3 linked regions of the Homo sapiens genome follow. The protein of the gene in region 1 purifies or fractionates together with the protein of each later gene. This does not show direct contact. Each region holds a gene or a part of one and is shown in the gene's direction. Other genes may lie near its edges.

Region 1 (7,014 bases):
CTGAGTTAGAGGAGGTAGGGCAGGAGACTTGAGGAAGGAAGGGACCCAAGGTGGGGCAGGATGAGCTCTTCTCTTAGCGTTCAAGGCACATGCCAGAACCCAAGGTGTCAGTTACCACTCCCCAGCCCCGTGTGCCCCTCCACAGGTGCTGCAGGTGAATAGTTTGATCCAGACTCAGAAGAGTGCGGAGCTGGCTGCGGCCCTGCTATCCATCTATATGGAGCGGGCAGAGGACCTCCCGGTGAGATCCCGCTCCCCATGCCCCATAACTTCCTGGCCCTTCTTCCACCTTCCTCCGGTTTGGATGGTCCTGGAGTATTTAGAATAAGAAAAATGGCCCCTCTCTTTCTGAGGGTAGTGCAGGGGTGGGAAAAGTTGTCTGTTCAAGGCCACGGGTAGTGGCTGCCAAGTAATAATGGAGACATGGCTGCTGGCTGTGGATATAATTTGTGAGGGGGATCTGCCTAACTAGGTCCAAATTTAAGACTAACACAGTATTGTCTTTCTAGCTGCGAAAAGGCACCAAGCACCTCAGCCCTTATGCTACTCTCACTGTGGGAGATAGTTCTCATAAAACCAAGGTATGAAGAAATGCTGCAGGGTAAAAATGGGAGGGATAAGAGAAATAAGAGTATCAGCTACTGATCATAAGCCCTCATCTCCACCAGACTATTTCGCAAACTTCAGCCCCTGTCTGGGATGAGAGTGCCTCCTTTCTCATCAGGAAACCACACACTGAGAGCCTAGAGTTGCAGGTACTGTAAATTCATTCTTCAAATATTTAGCAGATTTCTGCCATGGCCAGGCAGGAAACCAGGCACAGAGCATTCAGAGATGAGATAAAAGGTTGACTTTTTTTTTTTTTTTTGAGACAGAGTCTTGCTCTGTCGCCCAGGCTGGAGTGCAGTGGTGCTATCTTGGCTCACTGCAAGCTCCGCCTCCTGGGTTCACACCATTCTCCTGCCTCAGCCTCCCAAGTAGCTGGGACTACAGGTGCCCGCCACCACACCTGGCTAATTTTTGCATTTTTTTTAGTAGAGATGGAGTTTCACCATGTTAGCCAGGCTGGTCTCGAACTCCTGACCTCAGGTGATCCGCCCACCTCGGCCTCCCAAAGTGCTGGAAATACAGGTGTGAGCCACCGCACCCGGCCAAAAGATTGACTTCTTATCTTTATGGAGCTCACACTCTGTTTTGGGAGAAAAATAACCAGATGAAACTTTCAGAATGATAACTGAGGTAAAAGGCACTGTGGGGAAGAAAGGAAGGGTTCAGGCTGGGGAAAGGCTGGAGATAGAAAGGCATCCTTAGATGACCCCTGAGCTTGAGGGTAGATTTTTTTTTTTTTTTTTTGAGACTAGAGTCTCACTCTTATTGCCCAGGCTAGAGTGCAGTGGCGCAATCTCAGCTCACTGCAACCTCAGCCTTCCAGGTTCAAGCGATTCTCCTGCCTCAGCCTCCCGCGTACCTGGGATTACATGCGCGTGCCACCATACCCCACCAATTTTTAGTAGAGACGGGGTTTTGCCATGTTGGCCAGGCTGGTCTTGAACTCCTGACCTCAGGTTATCCATCCACCTCAGCCTCCCAAAGTGCTGGGATTATAGGTGTGAGCCACTGCACCCGGCCTTTTTTTTTTTAGACAGGGTCTTACTCTGTCGCCCAGGCTGGAGTGCCGTGGTGCAATCAGGGCTCACTACAGCCTCAACTCTTGGGCTCTAGCAATCCTCCTACCTCAGCTGGGATAACAGGTGCACACTACCACACCTAGCTAATTTTTGTATTTTTTTGTGGAGATGAGGTTTTACCATGTCATCCAGGCTGGTCTCGAACTCCTGGACTCAAGCATTCTGCCCGCCTCGGCATCCCAAAGTGCTGGGATTACAAGCGTGAGAACCGCGCCCCAGCCTAAGGGTAGATTTACTGGTTCTTTCGGACCACGAAAAGAAGAGCAGGAAAACTCTTTAGGCTGAGAAAAAAAATGGAGGAGAGAGAAGGCATATTTATTATAGATCAGAGAGGCAGGCAGAGCAAGATCATAGGAGCTGTTGAATAGTATGCTAGAAATATGGATTTTATCCTAAGGCTTAGGGAAGCCTTTGTTTATTTTATTTATTATTTTTTTGAAACAGAGTCTTGCTCTGTTGCCCAGGCTGGAGTACAGTGATACGATCTCAGCTCACTGCAACCTCCCTCCTGGGTTCAATCGATTCTCCTGCCTCAGCCTCCCGAGTAGATGGGATTATAGGTGCCCGCCACCACGCCCAGCTAATTTTTGTATTTTTAAGAGAGACGGGGTTTCACCATGTTGGTCAGGCTGGTCTCTAAGTCCTGACCTCAAGTGATCCACTGCCTCGGCCTCCCAAAGTGCTGGAATTACAGGCGTCAGCCACCACACCCAGTCAGGGAAGCCTTTAATGAGAGGTCACATATCCAGATTTGCATTTTGGGAAGATCATAGGGATAAGAGGGTAAAGAATGGACTGGAGAGGGACAACACTGGGGGCAGGGAGATCAGTGAGGAGACTGTTAGAGCAGTCAAAGCAGGAAACGACTAAAGCCTGATGGGATTTGAAGATTGCTGTGATATGGAGCAGGTGGAGGAGCAAGGAACAGCCTAGACACTAACTCTGGGGTTTTTGGCACAGGGTGGCTAGATGGATAAGGGTGCCGTTGCTGACTTAGGGAGTGCACAGAGAGGGAATTTTGGAATTTGAGATCTCTGCAGGACATCCAAGAGAAGACATGCAGAAAACAAATCTATTGTCCATGAGGTGTTCCTCCCTTGCCCTCTTATTGGAACATCATGAGCAAGCAACCACTCATAAGTGTAGTCATGGGTGAGATCTCTTAGGCAGCGTGGAGAGTGAGGAGACAAAAGATGGCCATGAGCCATCTTACAGGTGTGAACCACTGTGCCCGGCTGAAATTAATAGAATTTAAAATAATGTAACTTAATGCTAGCAGAGTAGAAAGGAGGTACAAATGAGCTCAGTTCTTCATCTTTTATAGCAGGGAATCAATAGATACAAGCATATTAGAATTCCGTGAGAACAAAGAAAACAGGAGGGTTTTAAAGGTTGTTACATTTGGAATATGGCAATAGGAGTAGGATGGGCAAGAAACATTTACTTTTAGTTCTGTTTTTACTGTTGTTTTCTGTATGCTGTAGGTATTACTGGTATAATTTCTGAAAGCTAGGTTGGGCGCGGTGGCTCACGCCTGTAATCCCAGCACTTTGGGAGGCCAAGGCGGGCAGATCACAAGGTCAGGAGATCGAGACCATCCTGGCTAACACGGTGAAACCCTGTCTCTATTAAAAATACAAAAAATTAGCCGGGTGTGGTGGCGGACACCTGTAGTCCCAGCTACTTGGGAGGCTGAGGCAGGAGAATGGCGTGAACCCAGGAGGCGGAGCTTGCAGTGAGCTGAGATTGCGCCACTGCACTCCAGCCTGGGCAACAGAGCGAGACTCCGTCTCAAAAATAATAATAATAATTTCTGAAAGTTTATGAGGTAAAGATGGTCCACTCTACTCTGGTTAAGAAAGGAAGGACAGGCCAGACACAGTGGCTCACACCTGTAATCCTAGCAATTTGGGAGGCTGAGGTGGGTGGATCACCTGAGGTTGGGAGTTTGAGACCAGCCTGACCAACATGGAGAAACCCCAGCTCTACTAAAAATACAAAATTGGCTGGGCGTGGTGGCAGGTGCCTGTAATCCCAGCTACTCAGGAGGTTGAGGCAGGAGAATCGCTTGAACCTGGGAGGCGGAGGTTGCGGTGAGACCAGATCACGCCATGCACTCCAGCCTGGGCAACAAGAGCGAAACTCTGTCTCAAAAAAAAAAAAAAGGAAGGAAGGACAGAGGGAGGGACTAGCAACTGTTACCATGGCTTCCCTGCCTTTCTCAAAGGGAAATCTCACCAAACCACCTATGAGTCCAAGCGTTTGGACCTTTAAAACACCAGGATTAACTCATTTGTTGATGCATTCGCCTCTTGATCATGGTCCTGTTGCCCCACAGGTTCGGGGTGAGGGCACTGGCGTGCTGGGCTCATTATCCCTGCCCCTCTCAGAGCTCCTCGTGGCTGACCAGCTCTGCTTGGACCGCTGGTTTACACTCAGCAGTGGTCAGGGGCAGGTGCTACTGAGAGCACAGCTAGGGGTGAGTGACAGGAGATGGTGGGCAGGATGAGAGGGAGGAGGGGAGGGCCTTCACAGGTGAGGGACACCCAGGAGGGTGGGAACAGAGGGCCGTGTCCTTAGAGTGAGGGAACTGAGAGAACTCTGCCCAGCTCACAGCTTTCTTGCCCCTAGATCCTGGTGTCCCAGCACTCGGGAGTGGAAGCTCATAGCCACAGCTACAGCCACAGCTCCTCATCGCTGAGTGAAGAACCAGAGCTCTCGGGGGGACCCCCTCACATCACCTCCTCAGCCCCAGAGCTCCGGCAGCGCCTAACACATGTTGACAGGTAAAGGGCTGGGACAGGAAGGTGGGACGCAGTCAGAAATAAAAAGTATTACAGGTTCACTAGGCTCTAGCTTTCCCCAGACCTACTGATATTTCTCCACAGTCCCCTTGAGGCTCCAGCCGGGCCTCTGGGCCAGGTGAAACTGACTCTGTGGTACTACAGTGAAGAACGAAAGCTGGTCAGCATTGTTCATGGTTGCCGGTGAGACCCCATCCCTCCTGTCCTCCAGATCGCCTCCATCCCTTCCCTCAGGTTACCATATCACCTACATCCTCCTGTTGTAGGTCCCTTCGACAGAATGGACGTGATCCTCCTGATCCCTATGTGTCACTGTTGCTACTGCCAGACAAGAACCGAGGCACCAAGAGGAGGACCTCACAGAAGAAGAGGACCCTGAGTCCTGAATTTAATGAACGGTCAGTCAGTGGGCATTCAGGTGGAGAGATGGCAGGCTTGGAAAGGACTCCTGGCCCCTAACATCCAGTCCTACCCCAGGTTTGAGTGGGAACTCCCCCTGGATGAGGCCCAGAGACGAAAGCTGGATGTCTCTGTCAAGTCTAATTCCTCCTTCATGTCAAGAGAGCGTGAGCTGCTGGGGAAGGTAAGAGGGCAGGATGGCAGGGCAGAGGTGAGGGCTGGAAGCTGCTGGCACCAAGGTTATAGTCCCTGTGAGGAAGGAAGTACCCCACGTGATCCTTTAGAGGTGACTCACCTCTGCAATGGTTTGGGACGAGTATGTGATGAAGGAACATGGTCTTTGGAGATTTCAAAACAGCATCATCAGAATGAGATCCTGTCTCAAAAAATAAAAGAAATAACATCTTTCCCCTATCATCTTCCAACACAGGTGCAGCTGGACCTAGCTGAGACAGACCTTTCCCAGGGTGTAGCCCGGTGGTGAGTGTCTGCGTGGGTGGGGGATGGTCTGGATATTTCAGTGGGAGAAATTCCAATCACAGGAAAGGAAAAAAAGATACAATCTGAGCAGAGAACCATTGATTCTATCAAGTAGAGAAGCCCTTGGATCGTGTCTCATTTATAAATATGATGACACAAGAGTCATCTTTCTACATGAGCCCTCTTTTCACAGGTATGACCTGATGGACAACAAGGACAAGGGCAGCTCCTAGGAGCTGGCGAGTCCCAGCCTGACTGCTCTGTCTTCCTGCCTTCGTCTCGCTCCATCACCGCCTCAATGTGATGAGCCTAAAGCTAGGGTCCAAGGGCAGAGCCTGTGCCCTTCAGCCCTTTCACCTAACAGGCCCATATTCGGGCCTTTGCCTGACCAAAGAGAAGAACCGTATGTTCCCTTTACTGCACGGCCTTTATCCTTCTGGGCCCCTGGGGCGGGGACCTGAGCTGGCTGTTTCCTGCTTTGCCTGCACATTGTTCTCCCTTCCTCCCAACTCCTCAGGGCCTTCTGTATCTGTGCCTGGCCAGTGGCAGCACTAGCAGTGGTATTAGCTTATGCCAAATACAGCTTTGGAAGGATCTTTTTTTCTTTAACTAGATGGTCACCTTCTTCCCTACCACACATGGGTGGGAAGGTGGACAGGCTAACCTCTCCAGCTGTGAGCCTCTTAGACTACTGCATGTAGCAAATGTTCAGCAGCTCAGGCCCCCATGTCCAGTTCTGTCCCCACTGTCCTCAACCCTGTCCTGAAAATTCTACTGCTTTGATGGCTGGGGCCAGTCTCTTGTCACTTTGGAAACTGAGGACGCGTGGATTCTACTCAAGCCTCCAAGTAGTGGCATATCAGTCTTGGAGCTCCTAGCTGGTGATACGGAGAGGGCTTTGGAGGACTTGGGACAGCAGGGCCAATTTTTTTGCCCAAGTGCCTAGGCTGCTAACTCACTGACTAGAACTTAATCTGGTACTTTACAGTTTTGCACCAACTCTGCCAAGCCACTGGATCTTACATTAAACATCATACTCAAACCAGCTGTGGTTCTTTTCCTTAAGGATAGGGAATCAATCTACCCATCTGATGTTTATTCCTACTGTCAAAAGCCTTTATCCAATTCGTGAATCATGTCAGTTTAATTAATGGTCAAAGCCTACTAAGGTTGCAGCCACCAAGAATGTTGAGGATGGTCAAGAGACCTGTGTAAAGTAGCTGCTGTTGCATTTCAGGTGAGACTCATTTCCAGTCACAGTGATGAACTCTGTTACCCATCCAACTTGTCTGCTGACCACTATAGGCTTTCCAGGGAAGGGATTCCTAAACCTGGTAAACCTGGGAGCTCTGTGCCACTGCACAGGCTCCTGGTGTCTCTGTGCCACTGCACAGGCTCCTGGTGTCTCTGTGCTGTCAGGGCATGCTCAGCTACATTCAAAAGGGCTTCAGGCCCATCTAGCAGGAGCTGAGAAATACACCCATTTCGATCATCTGTACACCTTGAACTCTGCTCCTTGCAAGAACTTTCCTGGAATGCAAGCTAGAGAAGCTGTGCTCCATCTGTTCTGCCAATTGAAAGGAGAGAGATGGACAGAGTGAACTACTGAAAACAGGGTCACTGGCATAGGAACTTGGGGATTT
Region 2 (7,000 bases), on another chromosome or scaffold:
AATAATATTTTCCTTGAATTTTGGAGATTTAATTTTTGCTAAAGATTCTTATGTATAAGAATACATATTTCTATGTATATGAACTTCTACCTTTTTTTGGTAGAAAATTTGGCAGAAAAAGTGTATTCTATTTCATCAGTTGAACTATATGGAAATCTAGAAAAATAGAAGGTTAATAAAAAAGGAAGAATGGGGAATAGAGAAGATTTTTGTTAGGTTATTTGTGGAGGAATGTTAAAAGAGGAAGGATTTACAGTTCACGTTTTTCTCTCTTAAAAGGCCACTGCTGAAGCCAACAACTTAGCAGCTGCAGCCTCTGCCAAGGACATTTATTATAACAACATGGAAGAGGTACGTGGGACATACGCCTTATTCTGAAATATCTATAATCTGGGCATTGTTGCTGACTTCAAAAGCCCAACTTGATCCTACTTAATGTATCTTTAAGTGATGAGGCAATAAACTTATATTCAGGTTGTCCTGGTAACGGGGGCCTTCTAATTATTACCATTTCTTTGTTTGTTTGTTTGTTCTTGTTTTGTTTTGTTTTGTTTTGAATAGCAAATAGTTTATTGGTAAGTACATAGTTTCAATGGGAGTAATAAATTCACATGAGCAGGAGACAATAATCAAGTCAAAAGAATAAATGCTTACTAATCATCAGAAAATCTGTGGCCATTAAGGCTGGCACATAAAAATCCAAAATCACTCAGAGGCCGAATCTTAAAAGAAGATTCGTCCTCTTATTAGTTCATATGGAATAGGTCCATAGTAACTGGAATCTGTAGAATTCTGTAGATTTATCACCTTCTAACCAAACATGACCCACTGGGACATAACTGTAGCTTTTAAAGAAATCTGATGGACTAGTGGTGAGGATTTTGTCTCCTTCCAAACCAGTTACTCTTTTACAAATATTTGATGTTGGATCACTTGGGCTTTTTGCAATCACAATGTCACCTCTTTGGATACTATCAAAATGTCGACTAAGATTTTGTGCAAAGACAGTATCTGAATTTTGAATTGTAGGCTCCATTGATGGTCCAGAACACATGACAACACCACCAACGTATTCAGAAGCACAGTGAGCTATACAGCCATACTGAATAGCATAGCCAACAAGTCAGAAGGTTTCCCCAGAGCACCACGAAGCATAGTTCTATGTAGACTCTGCCACCATTGGTCATAGATCTGTTCTATAATTCATTTAATTTTTAGGGAAGTCGCAGGGCTTCCAGAAAAAAAAAATTAAAGCATGTCTCAAAGCGTATGTGGGTGATCCATGATTTCAGGAATCCTCGGGTCCCAAAGAACCCTGAGGACCCTCAACCAGGACACAGGTGGGCCTTTCTCACCTGGGCCCTGCAGAAGTCGACCGTTTGCTTTTGTTTTTTAGAGACGGAGTCTCACTCTGTCGCCCAGGCTGGAGTGCAGTGGTGCGATCTCGGCTCACTGCAACCTCCGCCTCCCGGGTTCAAGCGGTTCTCCTGCCTCAGCCTTCTGAGTAGCTGGGATTACAGGTGCCTGCCATCACGCCCGGCTAATTTTTTTTGTGTTAGTAGAGACGGAGTTTCACCATGTTTACCAGGCTGATTTCAAACTCCTGACCTCAAGTGATCTGCCCGCCCTGGCCTCCGAAAGTGCTGGGATTACAGGCGTGAGCCACCGCACCCGTCCCAGTGTCACTGCTCTTTCCAATTGATATTATCACCCTGGTTTTTTAAGTGTGCTTTTCAGAGGAAGTGAAACTAGACTTTATTGGTCTTAGTCATCTTTTAAAAGTTAACTTATTAATACATTGTTAACATCTTAAAACATTCTAATCCTTTCATTATCTTTTCATGTTTTATTTGGCACTTGTTTTTGAAGAGATCTTTTAACATATTGTTTCTTTGTTCTTTTTAGGTTTGTGGGGGAGAGAAACCTTATTTGTCTCCAGACATTCTAGAGGAGAAGCACTGTGAATTCAAACAACTTGCTCTGGACCATTTTAAGAAGACCAAGAAGATGGGTGGGAAGGATTTCAGCTTTCGTTACCAGCAGGAGCTGGAGGAGGAAATCAAGGAATTATATGAGAACTTCTGCAAGCACAATGGTAGCAAGAACGTCTTCAGCACCTTCCGAACCCCTGCAGTGCTGTTCACGGGCATTGTAGCTTTGTACATAGCCTCAGGCCTCACTGGCTTCATAGGTCTTGAGGTTGTAGCCCAGTTGTTCAACTGTATGGTTGGACTACTGTTAATAGCACTCCTCACCTGGGGCTACATCAGGTATTCTGGTCAATATCGTGAGCTGGGCGGAGCTATTGATTTTGGTGCCGCATATGTGTTGGAGCAGGTAAGTGGTGCTGCTGAAGAGCCTGAGGGTTGATAATGGGCAGATATTTGTGCTTCTGTTGTAAAATATCTCAGTTTGGAAGAATTTCATAGTGAAGACATGAGACAGTGGCCACTCCGTTGGCTGTTGTTTTCTGATAGACTGTATGTTTTATTATCCTTTAGGATATTAATATTTATTCTTAATATTTTGTTTCCATGTCTAAAAAGGCCCCCGCCCCGCTTTTTTTTTTTTTTTTTGAGACAAAGTCTCGCTGTGCTCTCTTGCCCAGGCTGGAGTCCAGTGGCATGATCTTGGCTCACTGCAACCTCCGCCTCCCAGGTTCAAGTGATTCTCTTGCGTCAGCCTCCCAAGTAGCTGAGACTACAGGTGTGTGCCACCACGGCCCGCTAGTTTTTGTATTTTTAATAGAGACAGGGTTTCACCATGTTGACCAGGCTGGTCTCGAACTCCTGACCTCATGGTCCGCCTGCCTCGGCCTCCCAAAGTGCTGGGATTACAGGTGTGAGCCACCGTGCCCAGCCCAAAAATAGCCCTTTAATGCAAAAACATTCCAACTTAGACATACTGATTGTGTTCCCCTTTGGCAACTTTTTTTTTTTTTTTTTTTTTTGAGACAGATTTTTACGCTTTTGCCCAGGCTGGAGTGAAGTGGTGTGATCTTGGCTCACTGCAACCTCTGCCCACTGGGTTCAAGTGATTCTCTTGCCTCAGCCTCCCAAGAGTAGCTGGGATTATAGGTGCCTGACACCATGCCCAGTTAATTTCTGTATTTTTTTTTTTTTTTTTAGTAGAGACAGTGTTTTGCCATGTTAGCTAGGCTGGTCTTGAACTCCTGACCTCAGGTGATCCACCCACCTCGGCCTCCCAAAGTGCTAGGATTATAGGCATGAGCTATTGCGCCTGGTCGGCAACTTCTAATTACATGCTCTTCAGACATAATTTTTATGTGATTCTCACTTCTCACCCCCTCTAGATTAATTTACTTCATTGAAAAGCAAGAACTTTGAAAAAATTATGAACTTAACGAAAAATGTTCGGTTTTGAGTCCTACTGGATTAGGAAAGGGATGGTATCTTTTTTATTTAAAAATCTTCCAAAAGCCAGTGGCTTGGTTATTTATTTATTGGGTTGCTTATTTATTTATTTATAAAATTTTTTTTGGAGACGAGGTCTTGCTTTGTCACCCAGGCTGGTATCTTAGCTCATTGTAACTTAAAACTCCTGGGCTCAAGTGATCCTCCCACCTCAGCCTCCCAAGCAGCCGGTGTTACAGGCGAGTGCCACCACACCTGACTAACCCAGTAGCTCTTGGACATTGACATGGTCACAAGTTTTGTAGATCTTTGAGATGATACATTTGTTTTTCTGAGTAACATGAACAGGTGAGTTGGGTTAGCAGCTTGTGAAGCCACAGGAGCTGCCTATCCTACCCTAGCCACAGAGCAGATGTTCCCCTGGCTCTCTTGGGAGTTAGCTGCTGCCACAGCCTCTCTGTATCCCTGCATTTTCATTCAACTGCTTTCTGTAACATGCCGATGATGGAGACAGGTTTTTGAAAGTTTAAGGACTTACTTTCTTGTTGCTGTGTTGTATTTTATTAACTTATATGTTGAATAAATGGACTTTTGCAGGCTTCTTCTCATATCGGTAATTCCACTCAGGCCACTGTGAGGGATGCAGTTGTTGGAAGACCATCCATGGATAAAAAAGCTCAATAGCATCTTAACGTGAAGATCAAACAAGAACACAACAAGCCCCTACTGATTTCTGGGTTTCTGCCACGGCCACAGGTTCATATCCAGAGGAATGGCAGATCTGAGACGATCCAGGAAGAGCTAAAACATGGCCCTGTAATAAATGAGCAGACCTCTCCTGTGGTTTCAAATTATTAAACACACTTCCATTTCTCTTGGAAGCATTTCTTTTCCTTGCTGTTATAGATGCAAGCCTGTGTCTATTTTCATATTACTCTGCTTTGTGCACTTTATGGAGGAGGAAGCTAGAGGAAAAATGGAAATGCAGCTTTTAAGTTCTTTATGTGCCACTTAGTGCCTTTTAAGATTGATTCCATGGTTTTGCACACACGATGGGGAGGGGATGGAGGATAACCTCATGAAAGGTGCCGTTTTCGGGTGAAACTTGACATTTCTTTTATACTTTACTCTTTTGAGAAGGATTCTTTTTTTTTTTTTTTTTTTTTTTGAGTTGGAGTCTCGCTCTGTCACCAGGCTTGAGTGCAGTGGTGTGATCTTGGCTCACTGCAACCTCTGCCTGCCGGGTTCAAGCAGTTCTCCTGCCTCAGCCTCCCAAGTAGCTGGGACTACAGGTGTACGCCACCATACCCAGCTAATTTTTTTGTATTTTTAGTAGAGATGGGGTTTCACCATGTTGGCCAGGATGGTCTTGGTCTCTTGACCTTGTGATCCGCCTGCCCGCCTTGGCCTCCCAAAGTGCTGGGATTACAGGCGTGAGCCACCGTGCCCGGCCAAGAAGGATTCCTTTTTTAAAAGTTTACAGAACTTGGAGAAACTTCAGAACTAAAGACTAACTGAAAATGATGTCATTACACTCAAAAAAAATTTACAATAGGGAATCCTGTTGCCACATAGTGTGGAAAAATCATGTCATATTTAAATATACCATACTCTGAAATGTGAGGTTTTTACCCAGTAGGCTGACAGTTTTGTTGCAACTTGCTCTATTTTTTTTTTTTTTTTGGTCCCTATAGCTTCTTTCTAGAAAAAGAGGCAAACGTGCCTTGAAAAGCCAGAGTGGCTCATAATAAAAGGAATGCGCTAGATACTTCAAGAAAAAAGCTAAGTTTAAATGAACCATGTGACCTCTGATAAGTCACTTGAACTTGTGCCTTGGTCAGGTTCACTGTAGGTTTACATATGTATGTATGTTTTACACAACTCTTGTAATTGTCATTTGAGGGGTTTTGTTTTTGAGAGTTCTGCATAAGAACAGAACTTTATTAAGGATTAGAGGGAAGATACAAATATTACTGCGTTTAATTGATGTCTAATTTCATGTGGCTTAGCAGCAATTAATAACCTGATTTAAGGTCTTTATTCAGAATGTTAATTTGCATTCTCTGCCGTGTCTAATGTTCTTAATAATGAAGCTAAAATTAACCCATTTTATTTAGTGAATTATCTATTTAATTTTACTTTGGCTAGTCTGGTAGCTTTAAGATAGCTTTGCCTTAGCAAGGATCAAAGTCCTACCCAAATATAAAAAATATCTAGAAGTATCTAAGAGTTCTTTTTTTCTATTTACCTTGATTAGGAGATAAAAGTTTTATCTGTTAGTTGCTTTTCCTTTTGGAATTATTGTGGATTTTAAAACTTAAAACTTGCCTGCAAGTATTTATATAAACATTCAGGTATATAAGCCTTAATTTCTAAGATAATTTAACTTTTGTTATGGGAGGGAGGTAAGAGTGTAAATTTTATATACATGAAGGTAAGATCTGAGTGTAAACTTTACATACATGAAGTATGAATGGAAGGTAGAAAAAAAGTCCCTTTTCGCATGTAATCTCTTTATCAAAGAATTTTCTTTTGACACTTTACCACTGAAGTATTTTTGTAAGTCCTAAATTCGCAGCATATTGTTTCATATTTATATGCCATCTTGCAAATAGTTCTTGCTATTTTATTCACTGCTGTTACACTTTAGAAAAATTCCAGCTTGTTTACTTGCATTTATCAGTGATGCCAACCAAGCTTTGACTGTTAACTTGAAAGCTTGCTTCTGAAATGTTGGTGCATTTTCAGGTGACCTCTTATCTCTCTGAAAGTTCATACCTATTAGCAGGCTCTGTAAATATTGACATACTTAGCTTTTAATACATTCTATAAGTAAATTTATAGATTTCAGAATAACTTAAAAAATTTAATGGTAAGAAGGGGTGATGTGTCGAAAACTCATACTAAAGTATTAGGTCACTTTAAAAAAAGTGATAATGTATGATTTAATGAAATCTTAAGATTCAGTTACTATTTAAATTCACCATTTCTGTTTTGGTCTTATAAAGAGACCTTGGTTTAATTATCCAGAGGAAGTCCTCTTCACCATTTTTTTTTTTTCTTAGTTCTGCTTCTGGAAAGTGTTTTATAAAGTTTTCTCAGTGAGGGTTCTTAAGAGTTTTCTTTGGCCTCTTTTCTCTCAACAGTAAATTGATGATTTTATATCAGCTTTTTCAATAAAAGATGCATTATCATTACTGGCTATAAATCATCCTGGGGAGATTTATAACCAGGTTAAAAATAATATCTTTTACTTCTCTCACCTTTTACTTGTGGTTCAGATGCTCAGACTGTGCCTGTTTGCGTCGTGTCTGTTGCTCTGCCGCTTTCCATGCAGGCATTTTTAATTTTACACAATCCTAACAATATATGGAACTCATTCCTATGAATATATAAAAGGAGGCTTCCAAAATTTTCTATTAAAATATTTCAGGATAAATTAAGTGTTGATAATTTGAAAAAATAATTTCAATGAGCTGCTTATAGTAAAAATGGTAGAATCAGAGTTTTCATTCTTTGAGAAATCTTTCTGTAAGATTGGCTCATAGATAAAATGAGACAAACTACTATGTATGATAAAACACCTTCAGAGTCATGCCTTGTTTTATTTTATTTTATTTTTTGAG
Region 3 (7,000 bases), on another chromosome or scaffold:
ATTTAATACTAATACATTGGGTATTAGGTCCCAACATATGGATGTTGGGGGAACACAACATTCAGACCATAGCAGTCACCTTCATTTTAACTATTCTCCATACCTCTTGTAACTCTTATGCTCCCTAGCCAGAGTTATTTTTTAAAATACAGGTTCATCTATTTAGCAAAAATCAAATGCCAGTCACATGTGTGGCACTGTGGTAGCACTTTAGATATGGCAAGAAATAAGGTAGTCATACTCTCTGTCCTTGTTGAATGAGCAGTCTACCCAGGCAAGAAATAGGCAAAGTAGTGACCGTGTGGTAAGCCCTCTAAAGTAAATAAACAGTTCTGGTAGAGAAGACCTGAGGAATGAGAAGGGGCCAGCCAAGAGCAGAGCCAGGGAGAGGGAGAAGAGTGTGTCAGGCCCTGAGGCAGCACACAGCTTAGCTCTGTGTGAGCAAAGAGTGGTGGGGGAGGCACCAGAGAGGTGCAGGTGCCAGCAGGTAGGGTCAGTGGTAGAAGTGTGCATTTCATTCCAGATGGTGGTAGGGAGTTTGCATTTTCTGATTGCCTTGGATGGGTTTTAAATAGGGGGTGACATGATACGATTTATATTTTAAGGTCACTTTGGCTGCTGTGACCTCTGTAAGGAGTTCGCGATCTTGCCAAACTATTGCCAGTAATTTACTTCCTTCCTTTCTCACCTTTCAGCCTTTCTCTTGCTGTTTCCTCTCCTTGGGCCATCACAAGAAGGGGAGTAGTGTCAGTATTGGGTCAAGAGACTGCAGGATGCAAAGATGAAATTGGGAAAAGCTCACTTGGCTTCCTAGCTTTTCTCCCTTTGGACTCCCTTTGGAAGTCTGTGAGTGAAGCTCAGGTGCACCTGGCTCCTGGTCAGGGTCTGCTGCACGTTGGAGCATGTAGATGGTTGAAGACTTGCCCAGTGCTCACTGGGGAGCAACCAGTACCTTATTGTATACCCCTCTTCCTACTGGTTGTTCTTTCCGTGTGCATAATTTCCCTTTGAGCTCTTTGAGAACAGGGTCTTTCATCTCTGACTTCTAGTTTCTAGAATTTTTGGCCATCTTATATAGGCAATTCGGAATCTAATTCCAGCCTTCCTTTCATCAAGAACTGTTGACATAATTACCTTAATCTCCTTACTTCCCTCTTTTACTGATAACAGGAGGCAGACTACTGGAAATGTTTATTATAAAGATAGACCTCCCCCCATTGCTAAGATATAATTTAGATACTTATAAATTGTACACTTTTAAAGTATGCAGTTCAGTGGCTAGTATGTTCAGAGTTGTGTAACCATCACCACTGTCTAATTCCAAAACATTTTTATCACCCCAAAGGGAAACCATCACCAATCACTCCCTATTCCTCCTACCCAGCCCCTGGAAACCACTAATCTGCATTCTGTTTCTATGAGTTTGCCTATTCTGAGCATTTCATGTAGACGGAATCATACAATATATGGCCTTTAATGTCTGGTGCAGCCCTGCTTCTAATGGGATTGCACAAATAAGAGTCCTCTGGAGGGTGTATGCTGTGCTGCACCCTCATATGTGAGTAAGTCCTCCTGGTGCAGTCCCTCCAGGGTGGGCGCTAGTGAGCCAGGGCCCTAGTCCTGTACTTGCTCCTTTGTACAAATGGAATTGTGAGGCAAACTCAGACTTTATCTTCTATTTAAGGAAAGGGGAAGGTTTGCTTTCTGTCCTACCCAGTAACTTTTTTGCTTAAAATTCTATAAAAATGTCTATTACTTTTCCTCTTTTTATTTCATATTTTCCTTAAGACTTGGGCTGCCACCTTCCTGGGACTATCAGAGTTGGGCCTTAAAGATCAAACAGGTAGTCCAGTTCCTTTAGTTTTAAAATGACAATTCAGGGACAGAGAAAGGTGGAGTGTGTTTCCCAAGGTCACACAGAGGCCAGGCTTGGTCTGGAACTACACAGGAATGTAAAGCACATTTAGGCATATTTTAGTGCCAATGTTAGAAAGATTAAATATGTTTAGGGGGCGGGGCATGATGGCCCACATCTGTAATCTCAGCACTTTGGGGTGCTGAGGCAGAGGGATTGCTTGAGGCCAGGAGTTCAAGACGAGAGTCCAGCACTATATATTTAATCTTTAACAACACTTTTGAAATCTCATACCCAGTTCAGTAATGTGTCATTTTAGTTTCTGTGTGTCCTCACAAGCCCATTTTAAACTTTTGCTGCTGGTGTAAAGAGTTATATTGCATTTAGCTCTTTGTATGACTCCTGAAATCTGTGTAGCATTTTATTTAACAGATATGTACATATCTCTGTCTAAGTGCTTTGCAAATATAGCTCATTTAATCCTCAGAACAACCCTATTATGTAAGTGCTATGATTATTCCCATTTTTACAGATGAGGAAACACAGAAAGAGAATTTGAATAACTTGATCAAGGTCTCACAACTAGCAGATGATGAAACTGGTATTTAAATCCAAAGAATCTGGCTCCAAATTTCATGCTTTTAATGATTACGTTATGCTACCTCCCTTGTGGCTCTTTGAATGTCCCACAAACACAACATCACCTTATGTAGAGATGAAAATTAAAAAATGTAGGCCTTTCAAAAAAACAGTTGACCCTGTCAATACATTACCTTTGTGCAGTGTATTTTTCCTCTCAAATAAGGTACTGTCATCCCAAATCATATATCTGCACACATAGGCATTGACTGTGTTTTGTAGACATTAGTTAGAATATGTTACTAACAACTTTTCTTATCTGTTATGTAGCTTTGACTTATGACAGCAGAGGCTTGCTCTGTTTTACTAGCACAAGGCCACCTGAAAATGGCACACTGAACTGGATTTCCTAAGGGGATGCAGCGTTGCCTTTAGTTCTGTTTCAAGAGACAAGTATCTCAAGGGAAGATGTTTGGGGATGACCCCTATCGAGGTCAGATCAGAAAGGGATGGCAAGAAGGTTAATTTGAAGAAAAAAAACAATGAAAATATCTACAAGAGTTGTAACACAGTTAACCACAAGTAAAAGCAACAGCATCCTCTTAGCTAAATGATGCTCAGCACACAAAGGGAGGACACATTCTGGGGAACACAAGTTAAAAAGAGTTGCAGTCTACTTGCTTAAGGTGTGCATTGACAGACTCCTAAAGAGGTTTATTACCCAGAGGAGACTTTGAGAAAGTCACCGTGGTGTGAATGACAGTTGTGAACAGACACTTTCTGTTTTGCAGCTAGTCACTGGAAGCAGAGCTGTTTCCTTAACAGTACTGGAGGATGTGTATTTGTAGTTCTCTTCTTGGACTCATTAGTAGGGGGTGTATTTGTTTTCTTGTGGGTTTTTTTTTTTTTTTTTAAATTGTAATTATGTTTTGTTCTTTTTTACTCATGAGAACTTCAGAGCAGATGTATTTTCTACTGAGCTGCCTATGTTCCCATTACACTAGCTTTTCTCTCTGGATCTATATGTGCTTTGTTAAAGTGTTGAAGAGCAGAGCAATGCATGCCTGCGCTTTGCCTTCTGGGGTAGTATGAAGCACAAGCCAATGTGGCCTTCTGGCCGATGTGCACTTGGATAAAAAATATAACAGGCATTCTGCAAACTGTGACTTAAGCAATTTACTTAAACATTTAAATCTTTAATTTACTTAATTTAAATCTGAAATCTTAAGCATTTAAACATTTAACCTTCCTCAACTTTTTTACTGTCCTTGTTTCACTTAACATTACTGCTAAGAGTGCTGGACTCTTTTAAGATGAAAGTGTTGTGGAGAAATGAAAAAGTAATAAAAATATCCTTATAACAACTTGTGACTATTTTGTAAAATAATGACAGCCAGCGTTTCAGTTAAGGTTCGCCCGCTTGCCTGTGTCATAAAGAAAATAAAGTTTTAAAAAGCAAATAAGATGAATGATTTAAATTATTTATTCATGATCAGAGTTTCTGGGCTCTAAAGCAGTTGTGGAGGAGGATCTCATTTCTAATACTCTATTCTGGAATGTTCCTTATGAGCTTTTTTTTTTCTCTTTATGAAGGCCCTGGAGATTTAGTCTATTTGTCCTTCTTTCTGTCGTAGCCTCCCTCATCTCCTTCTGACCTGGACTTCTCTTTTTCAGGACTGACTTTGAATGAGGACTCAGTTTTCAACTTAATTTTTTCACATGGCATTTAAAACAAGTATAAATACAAATATAACATGTTAAGGTATTTAGTGGTGATTCATAACATTAACAATTAATTTTGGGGAAGTATGAATTAATATGGCAGAAGTTTTAAAACAATTTCAAAATTGTGAATGAAATTACTTTTTGTAGCAGCTGAAATATAAGTGGGGGCTGTAGAAACGTACCCTGACTTCATTCTGTCACTTGCACACTTTCCTGATTCCAGGGAGTGGAGCTTATCAGTCACTCTGAGTCATGTGTCTACTATATATATCCTGCAGCCTCTGATAGACCAAGTGATCTAGTTAAGGGATCGCTCACTTGTCTAGACTGCGGTCCGCATCTAAGGTGGCCCTCCTTTACCTAGGAAAAGGCAGCTTAGGTTGTTCCCCTTCTAAGTTGTGAGGTTACTTGAGATTAAGTTAAACTTTATGATACCAATCTGACACAGATACTTATAGAACCACTGGTTTTATTGACAAAGGGTTGTCCCAGTGGGATTTGCATCTGCTCTTTTATTGCTCCTGGCATTAATCTTTTTTACCATCAATCATTCAAACAGTTTTTTTGGGGGGACAGGCAGGGAGGCTGAGATGGGTGGATTGCTTGAGTTTGAGACCAGCCTGGACAACATGGCAAAACCCCATCTCTACAAAAAATACAAAAAATTAGTACACGCCTGTAGTCCCAGCTACTCCAGAAGCTGAAGTGGGAGAATCACCTGAGCTTGAGAAAGTCAAGGCTGTGGTGAGCTGTGTTGATGCCACTGCACTCAGCCTGAGTGACAGAGTGAGACCCTGTCTCAAAAAAACACACACACACTTGGGAGGCTGAGGAAGGAGAATTGCTTGAACCCAGGAGGCACAGGTTGCAATGAGCCGAGATTGCGCCACTGCACTCCAGCCTGGTTTTTTTGAGTGTGTTTTTTTTGAGACAGGGTCTCACTCTGTCACCCAGGCTGAGTGCAATGGCATGAACACAGCTCACTGCAGCCTTGACTTTCTCAAGCTCAGGTGATTCTCCCACTTCAGCTTCTGGAGTAGCTGGGACTACAGGTGTGTACTAATTTTTTGTATTTTTTGTAGAGATGGGGTTTTGCCATGTTGCCCAGGCTGGTCTCAAACTCCTGGGTGCACACACACACACACACAAACACACACACATTCAGTTTTGAGTTATAAAATGTTAGCTAAAAGGGGTCTTAGAGACTAAGCTGCTAGGGTGATAGCCACCTGTAACAGATGTGGAAATCAAGGCCACAAACTGAAGTTAATTGACATAGGTCACAGGTGTGTTGGGACCAATTCAGTCTTAAGTGTAGGGATGTCTGTCCACATTCCGCATTGTTATATTTGACTGTGACTGACTCTTCCATTTTGCATTTAAAAACAAAATGGTGGATAGTGGTAAATGAGATCACTGTAATTAAACACCAAAAGATTTGACCACTGAATGACTGCATTTTTTTCTTTATACTTCATTATAGGTATTCTATAGACTCATCTTAATTTTTTTTTTTTTTTTTTTTTTTTTTTAGCCAGGGTCATACTCTGTCACCCAGGCTGCAGTGCAGTGGTGCAATCATGACTCACTGCAGCCTTGACCTCCCAGGCTCTAGCTATTCTCACTCCACTGCCTCTGTAATCTTTTTTCTTTTCTTTTCTTTTTTTCTTTCTTTCTCTTTCTTTCTCTTTCTTTCTTCTTTCTTTCCTTTCTTTCTTTCTTTTCTTTCTTTTCCTTTCTGTCTGTCTGTCTTTCTTTCTTTCTGTCTTTCTTTCTTGATGGAGTTTCCCTCTTGTTGCCCAGGCTGGAGTGCAGTGGCGCAATCAGCTCACTGCAGCCTCCACCTCCCGGGTTCAAGCGATTCTCCTGCCTCAGCCTCCCAAGTAGCTGGGATTACAGGCATCTGCCACCAATTTTTTGTGTTTTTAATAGAGATGGGGTTTCACCATGTTGGCCAGGCTGGTCTTGAACTCATGACCTTAGGTGATCCATCTGCCTTGGCCTCCCAAAGTGTTGGGATTACAGACATGAGCCACTGTGCCCGGTCAGTCTTTCATTAGTCTTTCTCGTACTGTTTGTTGGTTTTCTCTCTTGCTTTAAAAGCACATATACTCTGCAGTGAAAAAGATATGTAACTTTCTGATCACGCATAGTTTCCTGCCTTCTTTTTTTCTATGAAGGAGAAAAATATTTTCCTTATTGGCATGGAAACGAACTAGTGTTTATGTCTTAAAATGTCTGATTCTTTTTTCCTTCTTATTTGAGGTACTGATAATAGGAAAACCATTTTGAATTACTAAGAATTCCTACATCATACTCTCTGATAAATACAGCCAAAAGCAATCCCATGCATGGTGGGCATGGAGGATGGTCAAGTTATGTGTCTGCCATAACAAAAAGGATTATAAACATTATGGTCCATGTTCTTCATATTCAATTTCCAAAGAACCTATCTTAACCTCTGGAATATTTGCTATTAAACATAAGTTACCACATTAGAAATAAAATATAAAGCAGATGGACCAGAAGATGATTCCTTTCTGTTCTTTACCAATAGGACATCTTAAAGCTTTTTATCCATATATATGGATAAAATTAAAATATATATGGGTATAAATGGATATATAGATATATTTTAATGAACTGCTTTTTTTTCCACACTGTCAGTCTCTGGTAAATAGTTGATATTGGTACAACTGGTTTGAATAATAAAGCCAATGCTGTGAAGACATACTATTACTTAATTTTATGTCATTTGGCTAGTTTGAATTGTAGCAACTGAGTTACTTATGAACCATGCACAGAACACATAGTATGTACCTATGTGTCTTAGGTGTGAGT

The links.
Region 2: the proteins of ESYT1 (region 1) and ATL3 purify together in Homo sapiens (affinity purification with mass spectrometry; 3 studies listed by BioGRID and IntAct, with this or other methods). This does not show direct contact.
Region 3: the proteins of ESYT1 (region 1) and REEP5 purify together in Homo sapiens (affinity purification with mass spectrometry; 2 studies listed by BioGRID and IntAct, with this or other methods). This does not show direct contact.

What each region holds. Positions count from the first base shown.
Region 1 is NC_000012.12:56,138,259-56,145,272, forward strand, and holds the end of ESYT1 (extended synaptotagmin-1), read left to right. Parts: coding exon 1-14; intron 15-145; coding exon 146-241; intron 242-509; coding exon 510-581; intron 582-668; coding exon 669-755; intron 756-4,026; coding exon 4,027-4,167; intron 4,168-4,319; coding exon 4,320-4,474; intron 4,475-4,576; coding exon 4,577-4,675; intron 4,676-4,758; coding exon 4,759-4,890; exon of another isoform or gene 4,891-4,969; coding exon 4,970-5,075; exon of another isoform or gene 5,076-5,267; intron 5,268-5,321; coding exon 5,322-5,371; intron 5,372-5,564; coding exon 5,565-5,604; 3' UTR 5,605-6,416; downstream 6,417-7,014. UniProt on the Homo sapiens protein: Binds calcium (via the C2 domains) and translocates to sites of contact between the endoplasmic reticulum and the cell membrane in response to increased cytosolic calcium levels.
Region 2 is NC_000011.10:63,626,377-63,633,376, reverse strand, and holds part of ATL3 (atlastin-3), read left to right. Parts: intron 1-279; coding exon 280-351; intron 352-554; exon of another isoform or gene 555-1,183; intron 1,184-1,905; coding exon 1,906-2,337; intron 2,338-3,971; coding exon 3,972-4,058; 3' UTR 4,059-7,000. UniProt on the Homo sapiens protein: Atlastin-3 (ATL3) is a membrane-anchored GTPase that mediates the GTP-dependent fusion of endoplasmic reticulum (ER) membranes, maintaining the continuous ER network. It facilitates the formation of three-way junctions where ER tubules intersect.
Region 3 is NC_000005.10:112,912,228-112,919,227, reverse strand, and holds part of REEP5 (receptor expression-enhancing protein 5), read left to right. Parts: intron 1-7,000. UniProt on the Homo sapiens protein: Plays an essential role in heart function and development by regulating the organization and function of the sarcoplasmic reticulum in cardiomyocytes.